4 linked regions of the Homo sapiens genome follow. The protein of the gene in region 1 purifies or fractionates together with the protein of each later gene. This does not show direct contact. Each region holds a gene or a part of one and is shown on either strand. Other genes may lie near its edges. The genes, in order: BHLHA15, DHX57, SUPV3L1 and LSM14B.

Region 1 (7,483 bases):
GAGTGCCCCTCCCAAGGGGCAGACCCAGCATCCTGGAGTCCCCACCCCGAGCTGTGCTGAAGGACAGCTGGGGCGGTAGGGCCAGGACCAGACCAGGCCTCTGACAAAGTCTCATCGAAATGAAACCAATGTGCCCGGGCCACCTTAAGGGGCCCTGACCAGGAAAGTTAGGCCTGAAGCTGCCAATGCCAGATCCTCAGGGTGTTACCTGTGTCCTTACGTGGCTAGGCCTGACCCCAAGTGCCACAACCCCCAACTTGGGGAGGGCAGGGCCACCTGGTGGGGACGGGCCAGCCAGAGCCCTTGGTCTCAGCTGTGGCAGCCACATCCCTGGCCCGGCTTGGCCCTGAGGGCCTTTGGGACATCTCTGGGCAGAGGCATGAGGGAGGGGAGAGTCCAGTAGCCAAGTCCGGCAGAGCCAGTGGGGCAGGAACGCCCAGCAGAAGGAAGCTGGGCTTGGGGCAGCAGAGACGTGCCAAGCCACCAGGCCTGGCCATGAGGATGAAGCACCTGGGCGGGGGAAGGGACGTACCTGCCACCCCAAGGCTCCACCAGGCAGAGAGACCCAACGGGCTGCCAACTCAAACCAGAACCCAAGCACGTCATAATGTCCTACAGACAGCATGGTGCCAATTATATGATAACCCCACATCAGTGAGAATAAGTAACGGCGGTGGCAGGGGCTGGGTGGGGGGCACACTCGCTCCCCACACAGGCCAGGGCTGAGCAGGAGGCCTCAGAGCTGCTCTTGGGGAGCAACCCAGGGCCTTGGGGCTTCTCTCCCATGCCCAGAAGGGCTGCACCAGGAACACCCAGCCCTGTCTCCTGCTCCAGTTCCACAGCACCCCTCACACCCTGCCCCAGACCCTCCACAACCAGGCACAGCCTGGAGTCAACACATCCAGGAGCCCCAACTTGGGAGGAGGGAGGAAGAGACTCCAGCCCCTCCCCACCATTCAACTTTTAAGGATGAATTGGAGGTCATCTGATTAGAGTTTCTGGCAGCTCCAATCATCTCTGATTGGCCCCACTCCCCGAGCAGCCTTAGGCTCTGCCGGGCTTGTCCCGGGCCTCAGTTTACCCCAAATGAGGATGCTGAGCCCAGGCCCCATGTAGCCCTATAACAAAGGTTGGAGAGGGGGTCCTTGCTGGGGCTTTGGCCTTGGAAAACCTGCAGGTAAACCTTTTCCTGGGATCTCCCCTTGCCCAGAAGTCAGGGTGAAGAGACGTTAGTTCCAAGGCTAAGGAGGCCTTTCAACTCGGGCTGAGACTGCCTGGCTCAATGAAAAATCAGGATCCAACTGGGCCCTACCTAGAGGTTTGGGCCTCACGCCGCTGTCCAGGGCCACAGCCGCAACTAGGCCACTCGCTGGTCCCCAGCGGGGCAGGAAAAATTGCTCCAGGGAAGTGGCTGAATGTTCGGGGGAAAATGGAACCGCTGAGGCCGTGTCCTTGTGGGGTGTCACCGCCCATCTGGGGCTCGTGGCTTGGAGGGACTGGGGCTGGGAGGAGCAGGCCAGGCAGCTGCGGCCACCGCCACCCCCACCCAGGACTGGGCGCTAGGTGCCCTCTCGGAAGCTGTGGATCTGCGTGGAGTACCTCTGCAGGTGGCCCTGGGGCTGGGCCTCCGTGGCCCCCAACGCACCCCCAGCCACCTGCTGCTGCTGCTGGTAGTGCTGGTAGAGCTTGGGGCCCGGCCCCTCCAGGCCTGGGAGGCGGCTGCTGGACATGGTCAGGATGGTGGCCGTCAGCGATTTGATGTAGTTCTTGGCCAGCGTGAGCGTCTCGATCTTGGAGAGCTTCTTGTCCGCGCGCACGTGGGGGATGACTTCACGCAGGGCCTGGAAGGCGTTATTTAGCTTGTGCATCCGCTGCCGCTCCCTCTCGTTGCTCTCCAGCCGCCGCTGGATGCTGCTGTCACGACGGCCACCGGGCCCGGAGGGTCCTGGCCGCCTGCGCCTGCCCTCGCCCGGAGCCCTTGCTGCGGCCCGGGCCGGCCGGCTCCGCAGACCCTTGGCCGGCTCTGGCCCCGGGTTCGGCAGGGACCCGTCGGGCGTCCCCTCCCCGGGGGTGGCCTCTGTGTCCTGCACCGGGGCCCGGCGCCGTGGGGGCCGGTTCTTGGTCTTCATGGCCCTGGACTGGCTGTCCTAGGAGGTGGCGGCAGGAAGGTGAGGCCCTTGGAGCTGAAATCCAGAACACAGGACACTCTGTGGTCACCCCACATGGGCAGGGGACCCGCTGGGGTGCCGTCCCTGGCAGCCTCCTCCTTGCTGACAGCAATGGTACCAGGGGCAGGGGTTGGCGCTCTGCGACTGGAGGTCCTTCTGTTCACACGCTTAGCCCTGGGCTGACCCCACACACACCCACGCCCTTGCTTTACCTCAAACAGACCTCTGGAATCTGTCCCTGTCCCTGCGTCCCCCTTCCCCCAGGATGACTCATCCTGACCCCTAGATCTTCCTCTGGCTCATGCCCCTCACTGCCCCCAGAGTGCCTCCTGAGCTCGGTGACCTTTGACACTTTGCCTAGAATGCGTCCCCCACCCTAGCTTAGGGGGCGCCTCTGCCGGAGGCGGCACTGACTTCATCCCGTGGGCGGGCAGTGACTCCAGCCACCAGGCTCTCACTGTCCTGCCCCGCTGGACGTGACACGTGCAGGGACAGCACTGGGGCCAGAACCGCTGCGGACATGGGACAGCACTGGGGCCAGAACCGCTGCGGACATGGGGCAGCCGTGGAGGTCAGAGGTCGGCAATGGCCAGGGCCTGGCGGCAGCCCCCAATCCCACCACGTGGATGGGCCCCGTGGAGCCTCCAGACAGACCAGAAGTCCCCCACCCGGGTTTCCCCACAGCCCCCACAACCCCCACAACCCCACCGCCAGGTCCTGCCCCTGGGTCCCCTCCCCGCGGCCCCACCCGAGTTCCCAGCTCCCGGGTTACCTGGGGATCCGCGGCCACACGCGCCGAGGCTGCCCACGGGGGACAAGGACACGTCGCTTTAGCCGCCCCGGGAGGGGCCGCGGACGCATGCAAATGAGCCCTCGGGGCGGGGCCGGGGCGGGGCCGGGGTCCGGGTGTCCCGGCGGGCGCTGGGCAGCAGTGGCGGCACCTGCGGGCGGGCGGGCGGGAGGCCGGCGCCTGGGGCTCCCGGACCAGGTGGCCGCGCAGCCCCGCCCCCAGCTTCCGCCCCGCCCCCAAGATAGAAAACCTCCCCCGCCCGCCTCTCCCCATCCTCCCCCTACTGCCCCCCACCCTCGTCCCCCAAGACAGCCACCCCCGCCCGCCTCTCCCCACCATCCCCCGACAGCCCCCGACCCTCGTTCCCCCAGACAGCCTCCCCCACACGCTTCTCCCCATCCTCCCCCGACAGCCCCCCAACCGCCCCGAGATAGCTTCCCCCCATTCGTCTCTCCCCATTCTCCCGCTACAGCCCCCCCAAGACAGCCTGCGTCCCCACCTCCCCTACTCCCGTCCCCCGACAGCCTCCCCACAACCTGCTTTTCCCCATCCTCCCCCTCAATTTCCACTCGCGCCTTTCCCACCCGCCTACCCCATATCCGTGCCCGAGACAGCCTCCCCCCGCCCGCTTTCCCCGACCCTCCCCCTGACACAGCACCCCCGCATCCATGCCTCCCGCGATCCTCCTTGCCCGGCCTCTCCACTCGTGGCGGGGCCCGGGCCCATTCCGCCAATGGGAAACAGGTCTCTGGGAGCCGCCGGAAGGAGGGGCAGCCCCGATTCAGGCTCAGCACACAGATCCCAAGTCCCAGGAGCACTCCGGGACGAGCCGCTCCGCGAAAACGCGGGCATCTCCCAGGGGATCCCCCGCCCCGCCGCCCGGGATGTTTAGGGGAACCTGGGGCTCCTACGGGCTGGGGGCGGAGCCCGAGTTGGGGTGGGGGTGGGGGGCTCCTTGGGCAGGTGTGCAGTCCTTGGGAACGCCTGTTTTGTTTGTTTGTTTGTTTTTGAGACGGAGTTTCGCTCTTGCTGCCCAGGCTGGCGTGCAATGGAGCGAGATGATCTCGGCTCACCGCAACCTCCGCCTCCCGGGTTCAAGCGATTCTCCTGCCTCAGCCTCCCGAGTAGCTGGGATTACAGGCATGCACCACCACGCCCAGCTAATTTTTGTATTTTTAGTAGAGACGGGGTTTCTCCACGTTGGCCAGGCTGGTCTTCAACTCCTGACCTCAAGTGATCCACCCGCCTCGGCATCCCAAAGTGCTGGGATTACATGCGTGAGCCACCACGCCCAGCCAAAGCAGCATCTTGCTCAGGGACTATTCGGGGCTGCTAGGGGTGCGGTGACTGCACGCTGCTGGGGGTGCGGTGAGTGTCACGCTGGCTGGCAGGCCTGGGCTCCACACTCATGGGTCTCGCCGCTCTGTCTCAGTACCTCTGGGTGGGAACTCAGAGGGGCCATAGTGGGGCGGGGGGCGGGCACAGAAAGGCTAGCTTGGAGCCAAGGTTAGTTAGTTCTTCTCTTGGCCTAAAGCTCATTTGAGGCTGGGCCAAATGAGGTCCTTGGAAATGAAAATGCTTCCGAAATTCATGAGTGCAAAGGCATGGTTTATAGACATGCTTCAAGGTGGCAGGAACACTAAACAGGTTTGGTTTTCCAGTGGTTATACAAAGCTTTATGTCCTCAGGAGTGCGGGGAGTTTAGGTCTGTCACACAAGCTCCAGAGGGACCAGGGCAGGGGCCTGGAACACAGGCTGCGGGCGCTCACAGCAGGGCAGGGCCAGGCCACCCACCCAGGTGGCCCTTGCACGGTGGACAAAACACAGAAGAAACGCGGCCAACAGAGTTTATAAATATATAACTATATTTATTTTGAATATTAAATAGTTTTTAAATTACAAGCAATTTATTGAATCACACTATGCATCAATATACAGTAAAAATCTTACAATTTAAAAATGTACACAATTTAAACTGAAAGTTCATTGACTATTATATTGCCATGAACCTCTTCTGCCTGTGTTAAAGCACAGCAGGGAGGCCTGGTGGGTGTGACGGCCCCCTACGTCCTCCTCTGCAGACGGAATCCGACGGTGGATCCATACACCAGCCCCATGATCAAGATCCCGCTCGGCCCACGTAGGCCTGAGTGCTTAACCAGCACGTGTCCACACCGGTCAAACTGATCTTCACAGGCTGTTGGTAATTCAACACTGTCAATGCATCTTTAAGAATTTCTTTATAGATGAAAGAGAATGTTCTTTGTTAATAAAGACTTGAGCCAACCCCATTGCTACTTAGGAATATTGTTTTGGAGATTTCCATCGGAAGTCACTGCGTATACCCATTCTTTTTTTAAGGCTACTTCCCATAAGGCTCATGTTTTGAAGCCACTCTAACAGAAGCCCAACCTCTGGCGTCTAACCCTTGGTTCACTTCTGAATTTTCAGATGATGGGCTGAGTTAAGGAAGAGCAGGCGCTGCCTTCCTTCCACCGGGGCCCTGGGGACAGGCATGCAGTAGGTCCTTAACTCTACAAATACCTTATTTCGGGAAACAGGAATAAAAGGAGGGGTTTGGAAAGGCCTTTTACAGCAGCAAGACAAACCAAGACTTTTCTTAGATAAACCCATTTCTATAGAAACGATCGAACCTGTACATTTAAAAATAGAACGAACGTTGTTTGCAATTCGGCTTGGTCGAGCTTTCTGCACCCTTACGGTGAATGGCTTCTCGTCCACACACACAGGCCAAGTCTCAGAAGGATGTGGGGAGCACTTTTTCTGGGTTGCCCTTTCTGGCTTATTGACAGGGTCATTCAAAAAGACAAATTCGCATCTAGCTAGTAAGGAAATGAAAACTAGATTATTTTTGTTATAGGATTTAAAATGTACAAACTCCACCAAAACAGGACTAATTCAGATTGATTCTGGGTTGCTACCCCATAGAAGGCCAGAAAATATTCTAACCTTCCCCCACATTATCTAGAGAATGCCACTGATTTAGTTCATTGTACAACTTATTAGAACAAGTACATTTTGAAAACCCACCACTGATAACCAACTTATTAGTTAAAAAATAACAAAACAAACAACAAAAACCTGAACTGAACACAGCACATGCTGACATTTCAAAAATGGGCTGCAATTTTTATTCTACTTAAATTTCCTGTGTATTGCTTGGATTTCAAAAAAACATGTTAACCCACGTGTTGATTATAAATATAAAATCTCGCCCCTCCATGCAACACCACACTAAGATCCACTACCCCCCAACTCAATGTATAAAATGCTTTTTTGGCAATTAATTATGAGTGACTCAAAATAAATAAAAATGGGAATTATGTTATGAAAAAAATTGTTTTTTTTTTTGAGACAGGGTCTGGCTGTTACCCAGGCTAGAGTACAGTGGCATGGTCTCAGCTCACTGCAACACCCATCTCCTGGGCTCTAGCCATCCTCCCACCTCAGCCTCCCAAGCAGCTGGGACTACAGGTGCACACCACTATGTGCCCCAGCTAGTATATATATATATATATATATTTTGTATTTTTAGTAGAGACGAGGTTTCGCCATGTTGCCCAGGCTGGTCTTGAACTCCTGGGCTCAAAGTGATCCGTCCGCCTCGACCCCCCAATGTGTTGGGATTGCAGGCGTGAGCCACCGCGCCCGGCCAAAATCTTAATCCTAGTGGAAAACTGACAGCCCCAAAAGGTTAATAAATGTACTCGAGGCTGACACTGTATAAGACGACGACAGATTCCATGATCTGTATGACTTTGGTCATTAAATCTGAACTCCTTAAACCTGCAATTGAAAAAGTAGTATAATCACGTCTCATTTCTCTTCAGCCAAGACTAATCTTAGATGTAAAAACTGAGAAAACTCAGGAAGTCCCCACAGCAAGAATTCAGAGTCATGACAATTTTGGCAAAATCATCTTCTAATGCCCTGTTAATTAAAAAAAAAAAAAAAATTCGCGCATCCCGAGACAGTGGTGCTCCCCACATAGCCCAGGTGGGCACCGCATCCACCCCATGCCTACACAGGAGGGGACTCTCTCCATCCTGAACTTCTTGCTTTGGAAAGTTATTGCTTAGTATAAAAAATGAGAGGAGTAGGGTGGAACTGGCAATGAAGGTCATTTGCTGCGCACTCTCTGGCAACGTCCGCCTGCATTTTGCACTAGGACTCAACTTCCTTCCGTGTACCCCAGGCGGCCCCTGCACGGGTCTGGAGAGCACCCCAGGTTGCGCTGGAGTCTGGAAACATATCAGCACCGGAAAATATGTTGGGTGAAGGGTGAGTATGAGGGGACTGCAGGCCCAAGGACCCCCGAAGGAACGGCTGCCTCCCCAGCACAGCACAGCCGCGCTGCACCAGCCACCGAGGACTTCCTTATGTCAGAGCAGAACTCAGGGAGGGAGGTGTGAGGTCGCCCATGACCACAGGGGCTCGTGACGATGTGACGAAGCTACACTGGGAGCACTCGGGCCCTTTCAAAGCCAGAAGAGAACCTGGGGCT
Region 2 (7,028 bases), on another chromosome or scaffold:
ATCTATACTCAATAGCATTGACTGGGTGTGCTTTGTAGAGAATAAACTATAAAGGGGCATGAGTTGAAAGCAAGGAGACCAGTTAGGAGATGTTCTCCAAGTGTAGATATAAAATAGATAATTTAATATATAAATCTGAGGTTCAAGAAAAAGATCTAGGCTGGAGATGTAAATGTGTGAGTCTTCTATAGATAAATGCTAAAGTTCTGAGTCTGGATAAAATCGAATAGAGAAGGTATCTGATGTTTGAGCCCTGGGACACTCTAGGTTTTAAAGCTAAGAGAATTTGGAATGTTCCCAACACAAAGAAATGATAAATGTGTGAGGTGTTAGATATCCTAATTACCCTGATTTGATCACTACACATTGTATGCATGTATCAAAATAGCACATGTACCCCTGTATTAGTCCATTCTCACGCTGCTATAAGGACATACCCAAGACTGAGTAATTTATAAAGGAAAGAGGTTTAATTGACTCACAGTACCACAGGGCTGGGGTGGCCTCAGGAAACTTACAATCATGCTGAAAGGGGAAGCAAAAGCATCCTTCTTCACAAGGTGGCAGGAGAAAGAAGAATGAGAGCCAAGTAAAGGGGGACACCCCTTATAAAACCATCAGATCTCGTGAGAAGTTACTCACTATCACGAGAATAGCATGGGGGAGACTGCCCCCATGATTCAACTACCTCCAACCGGTTCCCTCCCATAACATGTGGGGATTATGGGAACTTCAATTGAAGATGAGATTTGACTTGCAGCCAAACCATTATCAACCGTATAAAGAATGTACAATTATTATGTGTCAATAAAAATTTTTAGTTAAAAAATAAATAAAGCTAAGAGAAAGTATGAAAAACAAAGGGGATTGAGAAGGAGCTGCCAATGAAGTAGGAAACTAAGAGAGTGGTTTTTGGAAGCCAAGGGACAAAGGTGTTTTAAAGGAGAGTAGCCAATAAGATCGAATTGTATGCTTAAAGAGGGTACACATTTGTGGAAAAATGCTTCTGGTAGGTCAAGGAAAATGTGCACTAAGAATTGTCCACTGCATTTGACAATGTGGGTATCATGGTTAACCTTGACAAGAGCTGTAGTAGCATAGGAAATACTGATTGGGTTGTGTTTCAGAGAGAAGAGGAAAGAAAATGGAGACAGAGACAATGATTTTGATAACCTAAATGAGAAGTTTTACTATAAGGGAGCTAGAGGGAGGAGAGATGGGTCAGTAGCTACAGGGAGATGTGCACTCAAGGGAGGATTTGGCTTGGTTTCATTTTTTTAAGAGGGTAGACCTTATAGTATGTCTGTATGCTGATGGGAATGATCCAAAGAAGAATGAAAAACCAGTGATTTAGAAAGGGGGATAAGTGCTGGAATGATTTCCTTGAGGAGATTAAAGAGATTGGCATATAGTTTACAAATAGAAAGGCTGACTTTAAGATAAAGGATGACTTTAAGATAGGAGCATGTGAAACTCCCAACTCCCCCTCATGTTTAACTGATCATTTCCTAATGATCAGACAAATCATAAGAGATTATATATGCTGTGTAATTTTTTTATTTCTTTTTTTTTAAATAGAGACAGGATCTTGCTATATTGCCCAGGCTGGTCTCGAACTCCTGGGGCTTAAGCAATCCTACCACTTCAGCCTCTTAAAGTGCTGGAATTACAGGTGTGAGCCAATGCCCCTGGCCTTTTTTTTTTTTTTTTTAATAATCAGAAATAAAGATAATTGGGTATTTTAGAAATGGGGCCTTAATATTCACAAGGAAGAATGAAACTCAGTGGTTTTCAGATTTTAATGCAGAATGAAATGAAATGCTCTTCATGTCCTATAGTGCAGAGGAAACCATCATTAGCATTGCTTTTTCCTAAGGATTCTTGAGTTAGTGAAGCCAGAATTAATGATTAAGAATCTGTTAAGTTTTGTTGTTTTTTTTTTTTTTAAACGGAATCTCGCTCTGTTGCCCAGGCTGTAGTGCAGTGGCACAATCTTGGCTTACTGCAACCTCTACCTCCAAGTTCAAGTGATTCTCCTGCCTCAGCCTCCTGAGTAGCTAGGATTACAGGAGCGCACTGCCACGCCCAGATAATTTTTGTATTTTTAGTAGAGACAGCATTTCACCATGTTGGCCAGGCTGGTCTGAAACTCCTGACCTCAGGTGATCCGCCAGCCTCGGCCTCCCAAAGTGCCAGGATTACAGGCGTGAGCCACTGCGCCTGGCCAAGAATCTGATAAGGTTTTTTTCCAGCAGGTCTGATATAATGAAGTCTGGTAAATACTATAGAAAATGGAGAATCTCCTCACATTCATTGTCATCTTTTGTAAGATACTTGACAATCCAGTTTGTATTGTGTATATCTGGGGACCCCTGAGGAGAGTGTAAAAGTTCTGATTGAAGATATGTGTGTAATTTTGCTCTTTTGTTCTCTATAGACCTAGCAACAGTAACATAAGCAAAGGAGAGTCACGCCCAAAATGGAAACCCAAAGCCAAAGTACCCCTTCAGACTCTACATATGACTTCTGAGAATCAAGAGAAAGTGAAAGCTCTTCTCCGAGACCTGCAAGAACAAGATGCTGATGCTGGATCTGAGTAAATTGTTTTATTTGAGTCAATTATTATATTAAGGAAAACATACTGGCAGTGTGAAGGTCCTGTGCATCTTTGGAATGCTGTGTCAGTACTGATTCTATTGTGGCCATTTAATTAGTTGAAAGTGAGCCAAGAGTAATACAAGAATAATTATTCAGCCACAATTTTAGAGTGAGTTTGTTTTGCAACATCCATGGGATTGCCTTTTTATCTTTATTTTTTTCCAGGGCAGTGCTCATATGGATTCAGTAACTGATTTATCTGTAACCTTCCAGATAAACCCTTGTAATGAACAAGTAGAAGTAGTGTTGAATGAGCAAATATTGACTCGGTCAGGTGCAGTCTTAGGATTTGCTTGTCATGACTGTCTGCCTAAGAGAAAGCTTTTACTCTTAAATCTTATTCGTTTCCCACTCTACTGCATTTCGGCTCTTTTGCTTTGGATTTCAGTTGGAGAAGTTAATTCCTTCTTTCCATTTACCAAAATTAATTAGTGGCCAGTCATGAACAGCTCATTTTCCATCCTATCTACAAATCTCTTATCTGTTTTAGATTTAGAAAGGGAGATTATGTAGCAAAACAAACAATTAGGGATAGTGTTTTTATGAATGAGAAGAGAGAGAATAGCCAAGGTTTCTGTGGTTAAGAACACAGGAATCTGTCTGCCTTTGGCAAAATCTCTATTTGCTCCTTAATGTGTAACCTAGGCAGTTACTAATCCTCTCTGAGTTTTAGTTGATCATCTAGAAAAAAAAAAAAAAAAGGACATTCCAGTAGTATTTGGTACAGTTATTGGGAAGATTAAAGGAGTTAGTTCATATAAAGCACTTAACACAGTAACTGGTATTTAATAAATGCCTGGTAAATGTTAATTGCCAAGATATAAATTAATAGTTCAATATAAGATTAAATCAGCAACTGAAGAGTAGTCAGGATCCTATGAATTAAATTCTTAGACCTTTGCTAAATTTTTCTTTGAAGTAAGTAGAAAGTAATATCTAATATATGAAAATGTTGCCTTTGCTAGAAGAGGCCTTTCTGGGGAGGAGGAAGATGATGAGCCTGATTGCTGTAACGATGAGCGGTACTGGCCAGCTGGACAGGAACCTTCCCTCGTTCCCGACTTGGATCCTTTGGAATATGCTGGCTTAGCCTCAGTGGAGCCTTATGTTCCAGAATTTACAGTCTCCCCATTTGCAGTGCAAAAACTTTCCAGGTGATTGCTTTGATCATTTATGGGAGTTGGGAAAGAATTCAAGGAAACCGAAATCATATAAACCCACTACCCCTCTTTGTGTACTTTCCTATTATGTGGGTTCCAGCAATGCCTGATAGGCCTAATATTCTATCTTATCAGAAGGGGTCATTCAGGGGGGCTTATTGTTATCAGGGATGCTTTTTCAAAATACAAGCCCTGCCTATGTGTAGTCATAACTTCATCTAAGCATATTTAAATGAATTTTACTGTAATGGTGTGATACTGCTTTTTATGTGTCATTTTTGTCATGTTTTGCCCTTGACAGGTATGGTTTCAATACTGAACGCTGTCAAGCGGTCCTGAGGATGTGTGATGGAGATGTGGGAGCATCACTAGAGCATCTCCTTACCCAGTGTTTTTCAGAGACATTTGGAGAGAGGATGAAGATCTCTGAGGCAGTCAACCAGATAAGCTTGGATGAGTGTATGGAACAGCGACAGGAAGAGGCATTTGCTCTCAAGTCCATCTGTGGAGAAAAATTTATAGAAAGAATTCAGAACAGAGTCTGGACCATTGGGTTAGAACTGGAGTATCTGACAAGTAGATTCCGCAAATCCAAGCCAAAAGAAAGTACCAAAAATGTACAAGAGAATTCACTTGAAATCTGTAAATTTTACCTCAAAGGAAATTGTAAATTTGGATCAAAATGCAGATTCAAACATGAAGTGCCCCCAAATCAAATTGTTGGAAGAATAGAAAGAAGTGTAGATGATTCTCATCTTAATGCTATTGAAGATGCATCTTTTTTATATGAACTTGAAATTCGATTTTCTAAAGACCACAAATATCCCTACCAAGCTCCGCTCGTGGCATTTTATTCCACCAATGAGAACCTACCTCTGGCTTGTCGTTTACATATTTCTGAGTTTCTTTATGACAAGGCCTTGACATTTGCGGAAACTTCGGAACCTGTCGTATATTCTTTGATAACCCTTTTAGAGGAAGAGTCGGAAATAGTCAAGTTACTAACGAATACCCACCACAAGTATAGTGACCCTCCTGTGAACTTTCTGCCAGTACCCTCTAGGACCAGAATAAATAATCCTGCCTGTCATAAAACAGTGATTCCAAATAATTCTTTTGTTTCTAATCAAATTCCAGAAGGTATGTAAGGCATTGATCTTGTGGAGGGAGGCATTCAGAATGATGGGTTTAGAAGTCAAAGCCTTTAAGGCTGGTCTAGGATGGCTTAGTGATCTTGAACAAGCTGAACAAGCCATTAAGTCCCAAGGGCAAAAGGGAATGAGAATTCCCTGAACTGTAATTGTATCTGACTTTAATTGTAAGGCTCAATTGTGTTGCTGTGGTTGGGCTCCCTGAGTTGAAAGTTTGTAGTGACGTATGTTTAACTATATAAAATCCGAGGCTTGGAAGGACCTTAAGGTACGTTCTCAGAAAATCTGTTTTATTTAATTCATTTGGTTTTCTTTTGTTTACTTCTTATACTGTATACTGAATTACTTTCAAATGAATTTTTAGAGATATTTTGCTTTCTATACCACTATCCATACCCTCCTGCTTTTGGTGTACTAGACCCCCAGAATTCTTTAGGGATAGCTCTATGAATCCCTAAATCCTCAAATACTTGTGCAGGCTTCTAGCTTTGTCTAGATCTAGGTTTACTGTGCAAATTCTTTTTATTTTTATTTTTTTAAGATGGAGTTTCACTCTTGTCCCCCAAGCTGGAGTGCAGTGGTATGATCTCAGCTCACTGCAACCTCTGACTCCCAGGTTCAAGCGATTCTCCTGCCTCAGCCTCCTGAGTAGCTGGGATTACAGGCACCCGCCACCACGCCTGGCTAATTTTTCTATTTTTAGTAAGACAGGGTTTCACCATGTTGGCCAGGCTGGTCTTGAACTCCTGACCTCAGGTGATCCGCCTGCCTTGGCCTCCCAAAGTGCTGGGATTACAGGCGTGAGCCATCGCACATGGGCTGCTATGCAGATTCTTACACCACAAGTAAGCCCCTTTCAAAGAATTCTCTGCTGGGTGTGGTGGCTCATGCCTGTAATCCCAGCACTTTGGGAGGCTGAAGTGAGAGCACTGCTTGACCCCAGGAGTTTGAGACCAGCCTGGGCAGCATAATGAGACCCCATCTCTAGAAAATATATATATTTTCTTAGCTAGTCAGCCATGGTTGTGCACTCCTCTGAGTCCCAGGTACTCAAGAGGCTGATGTGGGGGAATCACTTCAGCCTCAGAGGTAGAAGCTGCAGTGAGTCATTGCATTTCGGCCTTGGAGACAGAGTGAGACTCTATTTCTTAATTAAAAAAAAAAAAAAAAGGATCCTCTTTTATTGGTTGCCATCTATCTTTCTTCCAGAGAAACAAAAGTTTGTATTATTTCATGAGAGTCCTTGGGTAAACTTCAATGAGTAGAGAACAGTGACACTGTTCTGAGATGTGGCTGCTGGTCATTTAGCCAGATTCACTCACTAACCACCCGACCCACTCCCAGATGGCAGCTTCTAGCGCATGGGATTCAAATGTGTTCCTTGGGAAATGAAAATTATGTGTCATGCACTTTTTTTCTAAAATAATAGTTTTATTGAGACATAATTTATATACCATAAAATTCACTCTTTTAAAATACACAATTCAATGGTTTTTAGTATTTTTATAGAATTATGCAACAATAACCACCTTTTAATCCCTGGACGTTATCATCAACCCCAAAAGAAACCCTGTACCCATGTACCCATAGCAGTCTCTCCTCATTTTCCCCTTCCCCCAGCCCCTCATAACCACAAATCTGCTGTCTATCTCTATGGATTTGCCTACTCTGGACATTTCATAGAAATGGAATTACACAATATGCAGCTTTTTGAGATGGGCTTCTTTCACTTAGCTAATGTGTTCAAGGTTCATCCGTGTTCTAGCACATATCACTACATCATTCCTTTTTATTAGTGAATAATATTCTATTATGTGGACATACCACATTTTGTTCATTGATTCATCATTTGATAGATATTTGTGTTGTTTTACGTTGTGGGATTTGGGGACACTTGCGTACAGTTGAAACATTCACTGCTAATTCTTTTAATGCTAATTACTTTGTTTGTGCTTGATAAAAGTTTATTTGAGGATGCATTTTAAGTTCTTTAGAAATAGAAATACTAGAAATGAATGAACTTACTTTATTCAAGTTTTCACTTTTTCTCCATTTTGAC
Region 3 (7,590 bases), on another chromosome or scaffold:
AATCCAACATTTATGAGGTAGAATCAACAAGACTCATTAACTGGGCTTTCTCTGATTGTTAGATGTAGGGGTGAGGGATGGAAGAACAAAGACTACCAGGTTTTGACCTGAGCACCTGCAGGAGCAGGCTGAGGGGAAGGTAAGTTGTCTTGACATGCTAAGGTGAGGTGTGTGTAAGAAAGACAAGTGGAGACACCTGGTAGGCAGCGAGATATATAGGTCCAGGGTGAAGGAGAGAGGTCCAGGGTAGAGACAAAGATCTGAGAGGAATACTGAATTAGTGAGGGGAGAGAGAGAATGAGACACCCCATAGACAGCACAGAATAAGGCAGCAAGGTGACGCAGGACAAAGCCTTTAAGTACCTCAACTTTTTGGGTTATGAGTAGGCAAAAGAGATTGAGAAGTGACAGCTTCTTGTCCTGATTGCTAAGCTAAGTGGAAATCTGACACCTTAACCACATGGCTATATCAGAGTGTAGTAATGCACCATCTTCTGTAGCCCCTCCTGCCATGCTGAAAAATCATTCTAGTAAATTCAACATCTGGACCAATCCCAGTCAAAGGAGATGAAAAATCACCTGGCACACAGACCCAATGAAGTATCTAAGGATTCTCCACCAGAAGAAAATCTAGTGCTGACAAACCCATGTCTTTATTCTATCTTCTTACAGGAAGCAGCAAAGACATTTACATTTTCAGGTGAATTGGAATAGCTGCAGAAAATAAGAATTTATCAATATTTGAATACAATAAGGCAAATTATCTCATCCAAATTACCTTATGCCTTCAAATAATATAAAATAATGGAAAATTGTTCTTTAATGGGTAAACTATTGTTTGAGTTTCAACTCTGCAAGATGAAAAAGTTCTCATCTATTTCGCGACAATGTCAATATACTTAACGCTAGTGAACTATGTGCTTAAAAACAATTAAGACTGGCTGGGTGCAGTGGCTCAGGTCTGTAATCTCAGGGCTTTGGGAGGCCATGGCAGGAGGATCCCTGGAGCCCAGAAGTTTGAGACCAGCCTGGGCAACATAGCAAGACCCCATCTCTACAAAAAATTAAAAAATTATCCAGGCATGGTGATGCACGCCTGTATTCCTAGCTACTTAGAAGGCTGAGCCAGGAGGATTGCTTGAGTCTGGGAGTTGGAGGTTACAGTGAGCTATGATCATACCACTATACTCCAGCTTGGGTAACAGAGCAAGACCCTGTCTCTAAAAAAAAAAAAGTAAAGAAAAAAAAACTAAAAAAAAGCTTAAAAGAGTAAATTTTATGTATTTTTATAATTTAAAAATAAATAATAGTATAATTACATTATTAAAATAACACATTCTCTGCTATGGTTTGAATGTCTTCTCCAAGACTCATATTGAAATTTAATTGCTATTTTAACAGTTGAGAGGTGGAACCTTTAAGAGGTGATTAGGACATGAGGAGTTTGCCTTTGTGAGTGGATTAATGCCATTATCACAGGAGTCAGTTATCACAGGAAAAAAGGATAAGTTCAGCCCCCTTTCTCTGTCTCACAGGCTCATTTGCCTTTCCACCTTCCACCATGTGATGATGCAGCCAAAGGCCCTCATCAGATCCCGGCTCAGAACCATGAGTCAAATACACCTCTATTGTTTATAAATTACTCAGTCTCAGGTATTATGTTATAACAGCAGAAAATAAAGACAGTCTCCCAGCACCAAGTAAAGTGAAAGGCCTTGCTTAACACTGGAAGAATATGTCAAAGAATAACATATACTGTGAGTTCCATCACATGTTTAGTGAAAGTACTGTACTTCTGCTCTGAAAAACATATTGTAGTCTATATTTTAGATTTACAATAGGAGGCACCAATGTCGCTTGTTGAAGTGAGACATTTCTCCTCCTATTCCTGGAGACAATTCTGGATAGCATTTCCTCAATCTCCCAGTTTCATATGGTCAGAGGAAACTCCCTTACCTCCCTAATCATCCCGAAACTCACCTTGAAAACATTCACATGCCTCTCTGTCAACGAATCCATCCAAACTTAAGTTTTGCTGAGCAAAGCCCGCTGCCACTAACTGATGCTACCTCTTCTTTTCTCTCTGGAGCCGGGGACACCCTACCTTGTTCTAGACCTTGTCATGTTCTACCTTGTATTACAGTTCACTTTCCATACACGTGTCCTCCCCCACGATACCGTTACGTTTCTTAAGAGGGGATCTGGATCTGAGTCTGGTTCCTCTTGGCAACCACCACACAGCCTAACAGCGTGGTATGAGTCGGCGCCTCCTCAATGATAAAGAATCCTAAAAGGAGTCTCCGCTGGCTTTTCACTGCCACATCCCATTCGGGGGTGGGAGAGAAACAAAGAATGCAAGAAAGAGCGGGCGTCCACCTAACAACTCAAAAAAGTCAAATCTTCCCAACACATGAGTGTCTAAACCATTCAGAGAGCAGGGCAGTAAAAGGGAAAAGGCCGCTTCTGGGACGAGGCGTTAAGAATTAATCAGATACAGTCCTAAGCCGTTTGAGGGGCTCACACACCAGCGAAGGAGGCAGACACTGAGAGGCACGATGACAACACTCGATGGGACCTCGGATCCCCAGGGGAAGGGGATGTAGCTTCCTCCCAACCAGCCTCGGCCCAGCAGACACCACCCTCTGCCGCCCTCAGTAGTTCCCGCACTCACTCTTGTCCAGAGGCCGGGTTAGCTCGGCCCCGACGTCGCCGTCGGCGCTGGGGCCCTGAGGTTTCACAGTCAGGGGCACGAACAAGGACGTGTTTGGTATTTTGGAGCCACCGGAGGCAGAGGAGGAGGCGGTGGCAAGGACAGAAACTTGCCCCAGAACCCCGGGAAAGGGCCCAAAGTGGGGACGAAGGGCAGAGCAGATGGCTGCCCGGTGGCCAGCCTGGCGCCCCGCCGGGAGCCGAGCCCACAATAGGGCACGGGAGAAGGACATCGAGGCCGCAGGTTCTACACTGTCTGGCGCAGCCGCGGACACGGCGGCGGACAGTGACGCGCACCTCCAGCGCCTGCTGTCCAGAAAGACCCAGGCCGAGCAGGTAAGCTGCCCGGGAAAACGCCTGACCGTTAAGGAAAACGCCGTGCCGTGAGGGTGTTCTTTCAGGGAAAAAGAAGATTAGCAGGCAAAACCACTAGAGATAATTCTCGTTCTCTTTCTCTGTTTTGTTGGTGATTGGGACCACCTTTCCCTAAAGAAGGGAAAATAATCAGGCATCTTTGGGATGTCATACATGAGCGGAGGGGGCCTGCTAGTCGTGTCACGTGATGCAAACTAGTACTTTGGTAAGCAAGTGTCCAGAAGCACGTGGGTGAGCAGTGAGAGAATGGGTGGTGGAGCAGCAACTGCGAATGCTCAGGGTACGAGTATGTCTTGCGGACTCAAACACTAAATAGCATTTCCCAAAAGTTTCTTGCATTGTTAACCGTCATTTCCTGATATGATAACGTTAGCGATAATAACTTGATATGCCCCTCAGAAATGTTGCTAAGAAATATTGTTGCACTATTAAACCCCTTGTATTACGTAAGTACTTTTGCTTTAATGTGAGCAGTTTGCGTACATCATCCTAGCAGCTATGACCACATAGTTGTGACCACATGGCAAAAATACGTGCTCTGTACCCCAGCCATAGTTTCGTTCCATTGCATTTGTTGAATACCGTGTTCTCATGTGAGGCTGCAACATGTTAAATTCACAAGTTTAACCCGGGCGTGGTGGTTCACGCCTGTAATCGCAGCACTTAGGGAGGGCGAGGCCGGTGGATCATCTGAGGTCAGGAGTTCGAGACCAGCCTGGCAAACATGGTGAAATCCCCTCTCTACTAAAAATACAAGAATCAGCCGGGCGTGGTGGTGCACACCTGTAATCCCAATTACTAGGGAGGCGGAGGCAGGAGAATCGTTTGAACCTGGGTGCCAGAGGTTGCAGTGAGCCGAGATCGGGCCACTGCTCTCCAGCCTGGGCAACAGAGTGAGACTCCGTCTAAAAAAAAAAAAAATTCACAAGTTTAGCATCTCCATCCACATCTCTTTATACTTACATCATTAAGATCTTACAACTTGAAGGAACGTGTTATGTAATATACAATACTGTATGTCTAATAGGATTCCAGTAACAATTTGCCACGTGCCTTTGATTCACAAAATAATTTTTAAACATCAGGGATACAAGGAGACAGTCCTTTGCTTTCAAAGGTTCTGATCTGGTTTTGGTGGTAAGAACAGTACACGTTAAATAATGCACTTATTACTCTAATAGACTAATGGCAGTTCAAAGAAAGGAGCAATTTGAGAGTGGTAAGGAGATTTCTGCCAGACTTAAAAGTAAAACATAGAGAAGCGGTAAGTAAATTCTAGTCAGTGGAAACGATGTAAGCAGAGGCTTAACTAAGGAAAAGACATACTGAAAAAAATTTAAGTAACAGAGTTAACGCAGACCTAATTCTATGGCTTACAAATAGTGATTATATTTTTGAGAAGAGAAATCATTCATTAGGAAGTACCTAGGATAGACTAGGATAAACACAAATATGCAGGGAGGAAAATTACAACTTTATCAACAGTTCTAGCTGAAGGTGGTAGATTCCTGTGTCTGAGTTATGATGGAGACCATGTATGTGGAATGAGAGGTTTTACAAGACTCCTTAGATAATGTAGTGAGTGACTAAATATGCTAGAAAATGTTAATAAACAATGATGTCTCGTCAGATTTGGAAACTAGGAGAATGAAGGATAAACCAAACGTTTAATACGTAACTGAGGCAAGCACTATGTTGTTCCTTTTAATCTTTTAATATGCTTGACAACAATTTAGAGGTATTATTGTCACCAGGTTAACTAACTTGCCCCAGTAAGTGGTAGAGTCAGATACAAATCTAAATCTTTTTTTTTTCTTTTTTTTGAGACAGTCTCACTCTGTTGCCCAGGCTGAAGTGCAGTGGTGCAATCATAACTCACTGCAACGTCCACCTCCCAGGCTCAAGCAATTCTCATGCCTCAGCCTCCCGAGTAGCTGGGACTACAGGCTTGCACCACAATACCTGGCTAATTTTTGTATTCTCTTTAGTTTCACCATGTTGGCCAGGCTGGTCTCAGAACTCCTGGCCTCAAGTGATCCAGCTGCCTCGGCCTCCCAAAGTGCTGGGATTACAGGTGTGAGCCACCGTGCCCAGCCAGTCTTTCTGATTTCAAAGCAAATAGGTGGGCTTTTTGGACAGGAGCAGCATATTAGGCCAGAATCAACATTTGTACGAGTCTTTTTTTTTCTTTGGAAGGGTGATCGTGAACTCCTGGGCTCAAGCAATCCTGTGTCAGCCTCCTGAGTAACTGGAACTACAGGTGCATGCCACAGCACCTGGCAGTTACTAGTCTTACAGATCTAGCCCAACCCTAGTATAGTTTTACAGAAAAAAAAAATCCTCAAAACTATTTTAACTGTAATTTTGTTTGCACCTCCTTGCAGGTAGAAAATGCAATCTGAATTTTATGATAGCACATACAGGCTTTCCCTTTCAGCCATTCATTAAGTTCTACTATAAACATTGAAATGGGAAAATTCAATATAAAATTTTTGCTTTTACAAAAAAAGATGTCATATCTATACTGGTTATGTCATATTTATAGCAGTAAGTGTAATCAGCACCTAACACATATTAGAGCCTCTATAAATGTTTTATTTTGCTTGTTGAATGGATTAATGCAGTAACTATGTAACTGGTATCCTCCTATACTTTGCCGTAGCACCATAATGATCTTTTGAAAACACAAATCTGGTAAGTTACTCCTGCTTAGAGTCCTTTGGTGATTCTGAATAAATGTTCAGATAAAGCCCATATTCCATCGTATGGCATCCAGGTTCTGTCCTAAATTGGTTGGCCCTATATGCCTCTTCCAGCTTTATTTCTACTCCCCACATCTACCATTCTATTCATGCTGGAACTATACACCAGTTATATCATCGTTTCTTACCTCTGCACCTCTGAACACACTGGGTGCTTCTCTTACATATCACAGGTCCCAGTAGAGGCTCTATCATAGAATGAAAACTATCGTAATTGTGTCTCTGGGTCAGTGGTTCTTAAACGTTAGAGTGCAACAAGATTGTTGGGCCCCATCCCTGAAGTTTCTGATTCAGTAGATCTGGAGTGGGATCTGAGAGTTTACATTTCTAAAACATTTCAGATGATGCAACTCTGCTGGTCTGAGACCACACTTTTGAGAACCACTGCTCTGGATTAAAGTTCCTTCAGGATAGGGCCAAGATAACACTTACTCCATTTTGCATTGCTATAACAGAACACCACAGACTGAGTAATTTGTAAAGAAAATGAATTTATTTCTTTTAGTTCTGGAGGCTAGGAAGTCCAAGATCAAGAGGCTGGCATCTGGTGATGGCCCTCTTGACATAACCTGGTAGAAGGCATCACATGGCCAGAGAGCAAGACCTGTGTGTCAACTCAGGTTTCTCTTTTCTTACGAAGCCACCAGTCACATCATGGGGGACCCACACTGAGAACTTTTATCTAATCCTAATTACTTCCCAAAGGCCTCACCTCCAATCAATATATGAATTTGATGATTAAGTTCCAACACAAAAAATTTAGGGGACACATTCAAACCATAGCAAGCACTAACTGATAGTCTGTAAATATGCTAAATCCATGCATGAATACGGAAATAAATAGAAGGGGAAAGGAAGTGGGAGAAGATAACCTAGGTGGCAGAAATAATACAAGTTAATTTCTTCTTCGCCTTTGCTTTTGCTGTTTTTTGTTTTTTGTTTTTTGTTTTTTTTTTTGAGACGGAGTCTTGCTCTGTCACCAGGCGGGAGTGCAGTGGCGCAATCTCGGCTCACTGCAAGCTCTGCCCCCTGGGTTCATGCCATTCTCCTGCCTCAGCCTCCCGAGTAGCTGGGACTACAGGCGCCCGCCACCACGTCCGGCTAATTTTTTTTGTATTTTTAGTAGAGACGGGGTTTCACCGTGTTAGCCAGGATGGTCTCGATCTCCTGACCTCATGATCCACCCGCCTCGGCCTCCCAAAGTGCTGGGATTACAGGCGTGAGCCACCGCGCCCGGCCTGCTTTTGCTATTAACAAAATCTGGTGTAGGTTTCACAAAAGCACATCCTGTAGATTACTCTCTCATACCTTGTCTACCAAATTTTGTAAGTTGAAGTTTCTAGTATTTTTCTGACATTAAGGTTATCATGATCTAGACGCTAAACTGTTGCTTATCCTAAGTGAACTTTTAAGATTTACTCTTGGCCGGGCACGGTGGCTCACGCCTGTAATCCCAGCACTTTGGGAGGCCAAGACAGGTGGACCACGATGTGTCCAGAGTTTGTTCCTTCCAGTGGGTTCGTGGTCTTGCTGATTTCAAGAATGAAGCTGTGGACCTTTGCAGTGAGTGTTACAGCTCTCAAAGGTGGCATGGACCCAAAGAGTGAGCAGCAGCAAGATTTATTATCGTGAAGAGCGAAAGAACAAAGCTTCCACAGCATGGAAGGGGACCCAAGCGGGTTGCTGCTGCTGGCTGGGGGCTGGGGTTGGGGGGTGGCAGCCAGCTGTTATTCCCTTATTTGTC
Region 4 (7,028 bases), on another chromosome or scaffold:
CCTGTGCTGCAGCACTGGCCCCTAACTGGCCAGTCAGCAGCCACACTTGCCCACCGTCCAACCACTCTCACCAAGGACGCCGTAAAACATCAGACCGCACCACGCTTCAGCACAAAACCCTCTGATGGCTTCCCGCGGCACTTGGAACAAAAGCCAAAGTCACTGCCATGCCCTACAAAACCCTACAGGAACCCATCCCCCAGACTCGGCCTGTCTGGAAGCACTTCCCGCACTCATCTGCGCAGCCTGCTCTGCCTGTGAGAACTGATCATCCACTTCCCATCGAGTTACAGCCCCATCCCATCGCCCTCACTGCCTGGCCTTCACGACATGCTGTTCTATTTTTCCCCTGGCAGAACATGAACCTGAAGAGGTGGCGCTCTCCAGCCTGCCTTCTGAGGCCCCCTCAACGCCCCGCGGCATGTCTGGCGCTCAATCTGCAGGACAAATGGGCCCAAGTTTCCAAGCCAGGCCCACACTGTAGATGCCACCCACTCCCTAGGGTGCTTCGCGGGACTTCTGACCAGCTGTTAGGTGTGAAAAATAAAACACACCACATGGTCCCTGGCCTCAAACAATGAAGTGAAGGAAAGCCAGTGTGAGCACGTTCTAGCCATACCTCAGGCTGCTAAGCAAGGACCTCAGGCTGCCAGGCCAGCGGGACCAGCAAGCAGAGCACCGTGAGGTATGCTGAATGTGGACACGGGTCTGCCGGGGGGGGCGGTGCAGCCCAGCCTTTGTGGGGACAGGGCAGCAAAGCCAAGAGGAAACAGGCTCGACCTCAGCCAACTCCTCGGGTCGGGATCCCCAAGAGGCTTCCCACACGCAACCTGCTGGGACTCCGGCACCCATCATGCAGAAACGCAAGCAGGACCCTAGAACAGCTACCCTGAGCCTCAGAGTCCAGCTCTGCCCTCAGGTTGAGAGCCCTCAGCCCTGTCCTTTCTAGATTGGAGGACTGTCCTCCCCTCATTCATTCAGCCTCTCACCTGGTCTTGAGTTCAGAAGAGATGTTGTCGAAGAACGACTTGGATTTGTCATAGTAGCAGTTGGGCCCCAGAAGGTCTTCCTCAGCGGGCGCTTCGGCACTCTGGGTCACCACAGCCAGGTCCTTCTCTTCCCCCTTCTCAGCCTTGTCATCTACAAAAAGAAGCAGAACACGTGGAGATGGAGGAGGGGCAGAGCGCACAGCCTTTTAGCAGGGTGGTCCCTCCGGGCTCACTCGGAAGCCACCCTCAAGCTAAGACATCAACTATGCCTTGTGCAAAGCAGAAATCTCTTCTTCTACCTTCTAAGTACAGGTCTCGTTCTGCCGTCTGGGCTGTGCAGTCTGCACCTTATCCCACCCATTTTCACACCTCCCAGCACCTCACTTCATTAATTCCTCACTGCCGGTCACCATCCGCCTGGCATCCCCGGTTCCTCTAGGCATCTCTTCCTTTTCCTTGAGACAGAGTCTTGCTCTATCGCCCGGCTGGAGTGCAGTGGCGCAATCTTGGCTCACTCCCACTGCAACCTCCACCTCCTGGGTTCAAACGATTCTCCTGTCTCAGTCTCCCGAGTAGCTGGGATTACAGGCGCCCACCACCACGCCTGGCTAATTTTTGGATTTTTAGTACAGATGGGGTTTCATTGTGTTGGCCAGGCTGGTGTTGAACTCCTGACCTCAGGTGATCCACCCACCTCAGCCTCCCAAAGTGCTGAGATTACAGGCGTGAACCACCACACCCGGCCAGGCATCTCCTCCTAACACTCTCTAGGGGTACTCCTGTGCAGAGAATAATTTTCATATAATGAGCCAAACCTTTAAAATTCAGTTTCTTCTTAAATTCTTTGTCAAGCTCCTCTCGGTTGAACTGGGCATTTGCACTCTCGAAATCAAAGTCACCCTCAAATTTGATTGTGTTTTCCTTAACGTTAGTTGGACGGTTTTGCCCTCTGGAGCGATTCCTTGTTCGCCTGTTTCCTGTGAGGACAAAGGACAGCCCTGGCTGAAGTAGGTCACCAACCCAGTGATCTCAAACACCTCACAAGGAATTTCCAGGCACACCCCCAAGGCCACAGAAGGAACAGAGCACACAAGCAGCGACTTCACACCAGCACCCCTGAAACCGTCAACCAGAGAAGCAGGCAGGAGGGCAAGCAGAGCTCAGCCTGATCACTCGTGGTCCCCAGAAATCAAGTGGCAACAGGTGTTACCTGATCGCCTCCTCTGAGGTCTTCTGTTCTCGTCATTCACCTGCCCTTGAGCTTGCACAGCTGCCGGCTGGACTACATCTACGGCGCAAAAGGGAAGAGTAAGGCAAAGCTCCTATAGCAGCCGGAAGCCAGAACCCAGCTGTGGAAGCAGGCCCCACCACCATGGGGCACGCGGCCAGGGCGGCACCGCAGGAGGCTGCTGCACAGGCCTGCCCTGCAAAAGCACATGGGGCTTAGGATGGGGGAGTAGTATTTTTTTAATTAAAAAAAAAAAAATAGCCCAGGAAGTAGTGTGCCACTTTTAGAACATCAAGCAAACTCCAGGAAATGATGTGTTCAAGTACCGCTGGCCGTCTTGCTGCTCGGCTGGGCCTGACGACCGTTGAGCTGCGTCCCTGTGGTGCCCTTGCCAGGTAACAGCTTTTTAGCATTCAGGTTGTCAGCAGAACCAGTCTGCACAGCCTGCTCCACCATGGGGCTCTTGCCGACTGGGATGGATGGAAAACCAGCTCCTGAATTGAGGAGGGGAGGAGGGTTTAAAAACAGAGAGAAAAGAAGCAAGCCTTATATCTCCAGGCATTTCTCTTCTGCTGGCATGTCAGGAAGGAAAGGAGGGCAACTGCCTAGATGTTCTATCAAATCCAGGCAAAGCACCCCCAGACTGGGCCATTCCCTCTGAGGCTAGCCCAGGCAGCAAAAGAAGGCCAAGAGTCACTGGGCAGCACCAAGGCCAGTTCATCTTTGGACTCCCCACTCCCAAAGCCCTGAGCTTCCCAAGTTAGGGAACCTCAAGGACAGGAAAAACACCGTGCCTACAAACAGGCACCTCCCCAGAAGTGTGGAAACAGCTTTCTTAAAACCACACAAGCTCCAATCCCAAAGGAGCTCAGCAGCCCCAAGATCCTGATGAATTCAGGATCTGAGAATTTGTTTCATTCTGGTCCACACTGGAGAAGAACCAGCCCAGCCTGGGATTTTCTAGAAAATGCAGTGAACAAATTCTGAAGTTAAATTCTACAACACTGTCATTTCCACTTAAGGCACAATAAAACTAAAAATGATGAAGCAGGAGCTGACTTCCGAGACGTAGCAGCCTACACTTCTCTCAAGGGCAAAGGCTCATCATGAAGACACAAAGGGCTCCTAGGTAGCCTTTGGCAAGGGGCTATGCCTATGAAACTGCAGTCCGAGGCCCACGCACAGGGGATGAACCCTCAGAAACCAGGCCCTCTGAATCAGGAGGAAAATGGGAAGCACCACCCACCTCTCTCCATCTCCTCCCTTTCCAAGGTTCCAGGACCTGTAGGGACTCTAAACAGGACAATGTGGGACTGGGTGTAAGTGAACAGAGATCTGAAACAGAAAAGGCACCCTAACCACAGGGTAATTATTATTAGACGAACAGCCCAATACACATGAAGACTGGGCATCTCATCTTACTGCTTTTACGGAATAGAAATGAAAAAAAAAATTGACTGTAGAAAAATTCCTTGTAACCAGATCAAGAGAAGCTCTCAAAGGGCAGGTTGGAACGACTCTGCATAGAGGTCTGGAAAGTGTCCTCTGGCGGGAATGCACCCGGGCCACTTTCTCACTGATTGTCTCACTCAGCATGTCCGGGAGACAAACACAGCACTGCCTGCCTGCTGATCATACTGTGACTGCAGGGGCATGGATAAGGGGCTTGTCTGCTTTTTACACAACCAACTAGTTCAAACAAAGTCTTGCCCTATGAGCAGGTTTAGGTAACTGATCCTAAGAGCAATAGAAGTATCTGTGTCATTTTTAAGTGGGGGAAAAAAAAAGACTACTCTGTAACTCAGATACACAGAGTGCATGCAGGATTTGGAAAGCAGCACCTGCAGAATGACAGACTGACAGCAGCTGTGTGCCATAAGGAAAGCCCAGGCATCAACCTGGACCAGGGCCGGGTAATGGCGATGGTTCAGCTTGTCAGGGTGCTATGTGTAACACAAACATACAGCAAGATCGTCAATATGAATTTTAGAACTTCAGGGGAAATGAGTAGAACGTGAGAAAAGATCTAGAAACCCCACAGGTGCCGCCACCACCACAGCACAGAGACAGGTGGTGTACACTGGCCAGCTGGCCATCAGGCTGATACTGTCCACCTGGCCAAACAGTTGGCGACTGTCACCCAAGCCCCTAATTTTGAATCCCCTCAATGAGTGATCTATGAACCACACGGATCAAAGAGCAAAACAGGCATGTCAGGTGCTTTGGGGAGTCCCCCCTGCAGCACTCTGGAACACATTTAGGACCCAGCAAAAACCCCAGGGAAATGACTTTCTGTGAACAGTGAAGTTTCCCGTATGTGGTAGTCATGGTACAGGTCAACAGAGAACCTGGACCCAGGGAGAGAGAACAAACTACTCCGCTGATTCTTCGTAATCCCTTCTTTAACACTGAGAGTTCATCAATCAGGACTACATGCTGAAGCAAAACAAGCAGCTCAGCGGCTGCATGGGCTTGGCAAATGATCTGCTACAGCTACTGTCATTCTGTCTGCTGCTTTACCCCTCGCTCTCAGAATGGTTTGCAAGACAGCATGCAGTTCTCCCAAACTGCTGTTACCCTTGGCAGTGAGCTGCTGTGGCTCTGAGGACAAGTCAAGCTCTGAAACGGGCTGTGGAGATGGAGAAGAGCTAGGGCTGGAAGCAGCGGCTGAGGCTGGAGGGCTTACCAACTTCTCTAAAGGAAGATAAAGGAGAAAGAGCAAAAAGAAAGCACACAAATAAGTCAGGATACACTTGTCTTGTGTCTAGCAAGCTTGGAAAGAGCCAAGCAACCTCTTGTAGGATTCTGTCATACAAACACGTTTTAGAAACCCAGAGAGCTGGGCTGGGAAGGCCGCCTGTCACACTAGGAATAGCAACCAAGCAAGCATGATTTGTAGCAGCAAGTGGCCTACAGACCTCGTTTAGGGTTCCCTGTCTCACTACTTCATGCTGGATTCTGAGCAAGGGTCGTGGATCACCTGCCAATTCTACACTCTGAGCCCATCTGCAAAGCTAGGTCCAGGTTAAGGACAAGGCAGGATCTTTCTCTACATATGGAGAATAGAATCATACTCTGGGGTTTTTCAATCTTGGTTGAAACCATTTTTGAGCGAGGCACTTACAGTAGAATAAGGGACATGATGGGTGGGTTTGTATTTCACGTCTATATTTACAGGCTTATAAATGTGCAAACAGCTAGACTTCATCTGTAATACTACATATATATCAGCTATTTCTTCTTTGAAGCAGATATACCAGGACTTCCACCTATTTATTTTTTGAGACAGAGTCTCACTGTGCCGCTCAGGCTAGAGTGCAGTGGTGCAATCTCAGTTCACTGCAACCTCTGCCTCCCAGGTTTAAGCAATTCTCATGCCTCAACCCCCCAAGTAGCTGGGATTACAGGTGTGTCCCACCACACCCAGCTAATTTTTGTATTTCTAGTAGAGACAGGATTTCCCCATGTTGGCCAGGCTGGTCTCGAACTCCTGACCTTGTGATCCACCCGCCTTGGCCTCCTAAAGTGCTGGGATTACAGGAGTGAGCCACTATGCCTGGCCCAGGACTTCCACCTAGATCCGCCCTGACTCTTCGAATGAATTTTGATTTGATTCTTCTGTTCCAACACTCAGGCTGCTGCCTCTTTTACTTTCAGTTGAGTAGTTACTAAATGCTCTCACAAGCGGAAGTTGCACTGGGTAATTTACTAAGTGTGCAACAAAACAGTCTACAAGCTGAGCATGACAGGAATGCATATCCCCACCCTCAGGCTCCATCGCTCCACTCAGTGACAGTTACACGCAAGGGTAGTTTACCAGACAGAAACAGGTCACTCACCTAGACCCAGGGAGGCGGCATACTGCTGGCTGAGCAGGGAGCTGGCCGCCAGCGGGCCGTAGGGCGCCATCCCTCGGAAAGGGCTGTAAGGCACGTGCGGCTGGAAGGGCGAGGCGGAGGCAGAACCCAGGGAAGACTGAACAACGAGACATCGGGTGAGAACGGCGAAGGCCATCCCATCACCCCGCACGCCTTCATCAGGGCGCTTGTTCAGCTGGGAAACAAGCACCGTCCCATCAGCCTGCACCCTTGAGATGCTGGAGGAGCCCTTGGGGTGCAAGTTTCCAGTATGGTGAGAGCTGCCTTTTCCACAGCATTTCAGTTCCAGTTTCACCTGTCCATGTAATTCCTTTTTTTGTTTTGTTTTGTTTTTTGTTTTTTGAAAGAGTATTGCTCTGTCGCCTGGGCTGGAGTGCAATGGCGTGATCTCAGCTCACTGCAACCTCTGCCTCCCAGGTTCAAGCGATTCTCCCAGCCTCAGCCTCCCGAGTAGCTGAGATTACAGATGCCCACCACCACACCCAGCTAATTTTTGTATTTTTGGTAGAGACGCGGTTTTGCTATGTTGGCCAAGCTGGTCTTGAACTCCTGACCTCAGGTGATCTGCCCACCTCGGCCTCCCAAAGTGCTGGGATTACAGGTGTCTTGTCCATGTAATTCTAACCCAAATTTCTCCTAACTCAAAGCCATCGGATGGCTTCCCACTGCTCCCAAAGCCGGCCCTGTGTGATCCCACCTTCCAGGATGGGTGCTCAGCACAGAACCTAATGCAGTCTGAACCCCAGAGGAGCTAGTGAATATTTAAATTTAGAAGTGAAGAAAATATTAATCTGGGCTCCCTGGGGGAGCATGGGCAAAATAAGCCATAACCCAATAAGCAGGCACATGGCATCAGACTTGCAAATCTGGTGTTGTATAACAGCAGCATGTAACGACTGGGCGTAACCCGAGGGCAAGCCCTGCAGTCCCTGC

What was found.
Region 2: the proteins of BHLHA15 (region 1) and DHX57 purify together in Homo sapiens (affinity purification with mass spectrometry; 2 studies listed by BioGRID and IntAct, with this or other methods). This does not show direct contact.
Region 3: the proteins of BHLHA15 (region 1) and SUPV3L1 purify together in Homo sapiens (affinity purification with mass spectrometry; 2 studies listed by BioGRID and IntAct, with this or other methods). This does not show direct contact.
Region 4: the proteins of BHLHA15 (region 1) and LSM14B purify together in Homo sapiens (affinity purification with mass spectrometry; 2 studies listed by BioGRID and IntAct, with this or other methods). This does not show direct contact.

Annotation. Positions count from the first base shown.
Region 1 is NC_000007.14:98,206,956-98,214,438, reverse strand, and holds the start of BHLHA15 (class A basic helix-loop-helix protein 15), read right to left. Parts: upstream 3,001-7,483; 5' UTR 2,941-3,000; intron 2,184-2,940; 5' UTR 2,130-2,183; coding exon 1,560-2,129; 3' UTR 1-1,559. UniProt on the Homo sapiens protein: Plays a role in controlling the transcriptional activity of MYOD1, ensuring that expanding myoblast populations remain undifferentiated. Repression may occur through muscle-specific E-box occupancy by homodimers.
Region 2 is NC_000002.12:38,858,929-38,865,956, reverse strand, and holds part of DHX57 (putative ATP-dependent RNA helicase DHX57), read left to right. Parts: intron 1-2,437; coding exon 2,438-2,596; intron 2,597-3,623; coding exon 3,624-3,812; intron 3,813-4,119; coding exon 4,120-4,958; intron 4,959-7,028. UniProt on the Homo sapiens protein: Probable ATP-binding RNA helicase.
Region 3 is NC_000010.11:69,175,644-69,183,233, reverse strand, and holds the start of SUPV3L1 (ATP-dependent RNA helicase SUPV3L1, mitochondrial), read right to left. Parts: upstream 3,001-7,590; 5' UTR 2,943-3,000; coding exon 2,672-2,942; intron 715-2,671; exon of another isoform or gene 580-714; intron 1-579. UniProt on the Homo sapiens protein: Major helicase player in mitochondrial RNA metabolism. Component of the mitochondrial degradosome (mtEXO) complex, that degrades 3' overhang double-stranded RNA with a 3'-to-5' directionality in an ATP-dependent manner.
Region 4 is NC_000020.11:62,125,468-62,132,495, reverse strand, and holds part of LSM14B (protein LSM14 homolog B), read right to left. Parts: intron 6,271-7,028; coding exon of another isoform or gene 6,193-6,270; coding exon 6,057-6,192; intron 4,912-6,056; coding exon of another isoform or gene 4,795-4,911; intron 3,572-4,794; coding exon of another isoform or gene 3,464-3,571; intron 2,712-3,463; coding exon 2,544-2,711; intron 2,278-2,543; coding exon 2,200-2,277; intron 1,967-2,199; coding exon 1,805-1,966; intron 1,141-1,804; coding exon 990-1,140; intron 141-989; exon of another isoform or gene 1-140. UniProt on the Homo sapiens protein: mRNA-binding protein essential for female fertility, oocyte meiotic maturation and the assembly of MARDO (mitochondria-associated ribonucleoprotein domain), a membraneless compartment that stores maternal mRNAs in oocytes.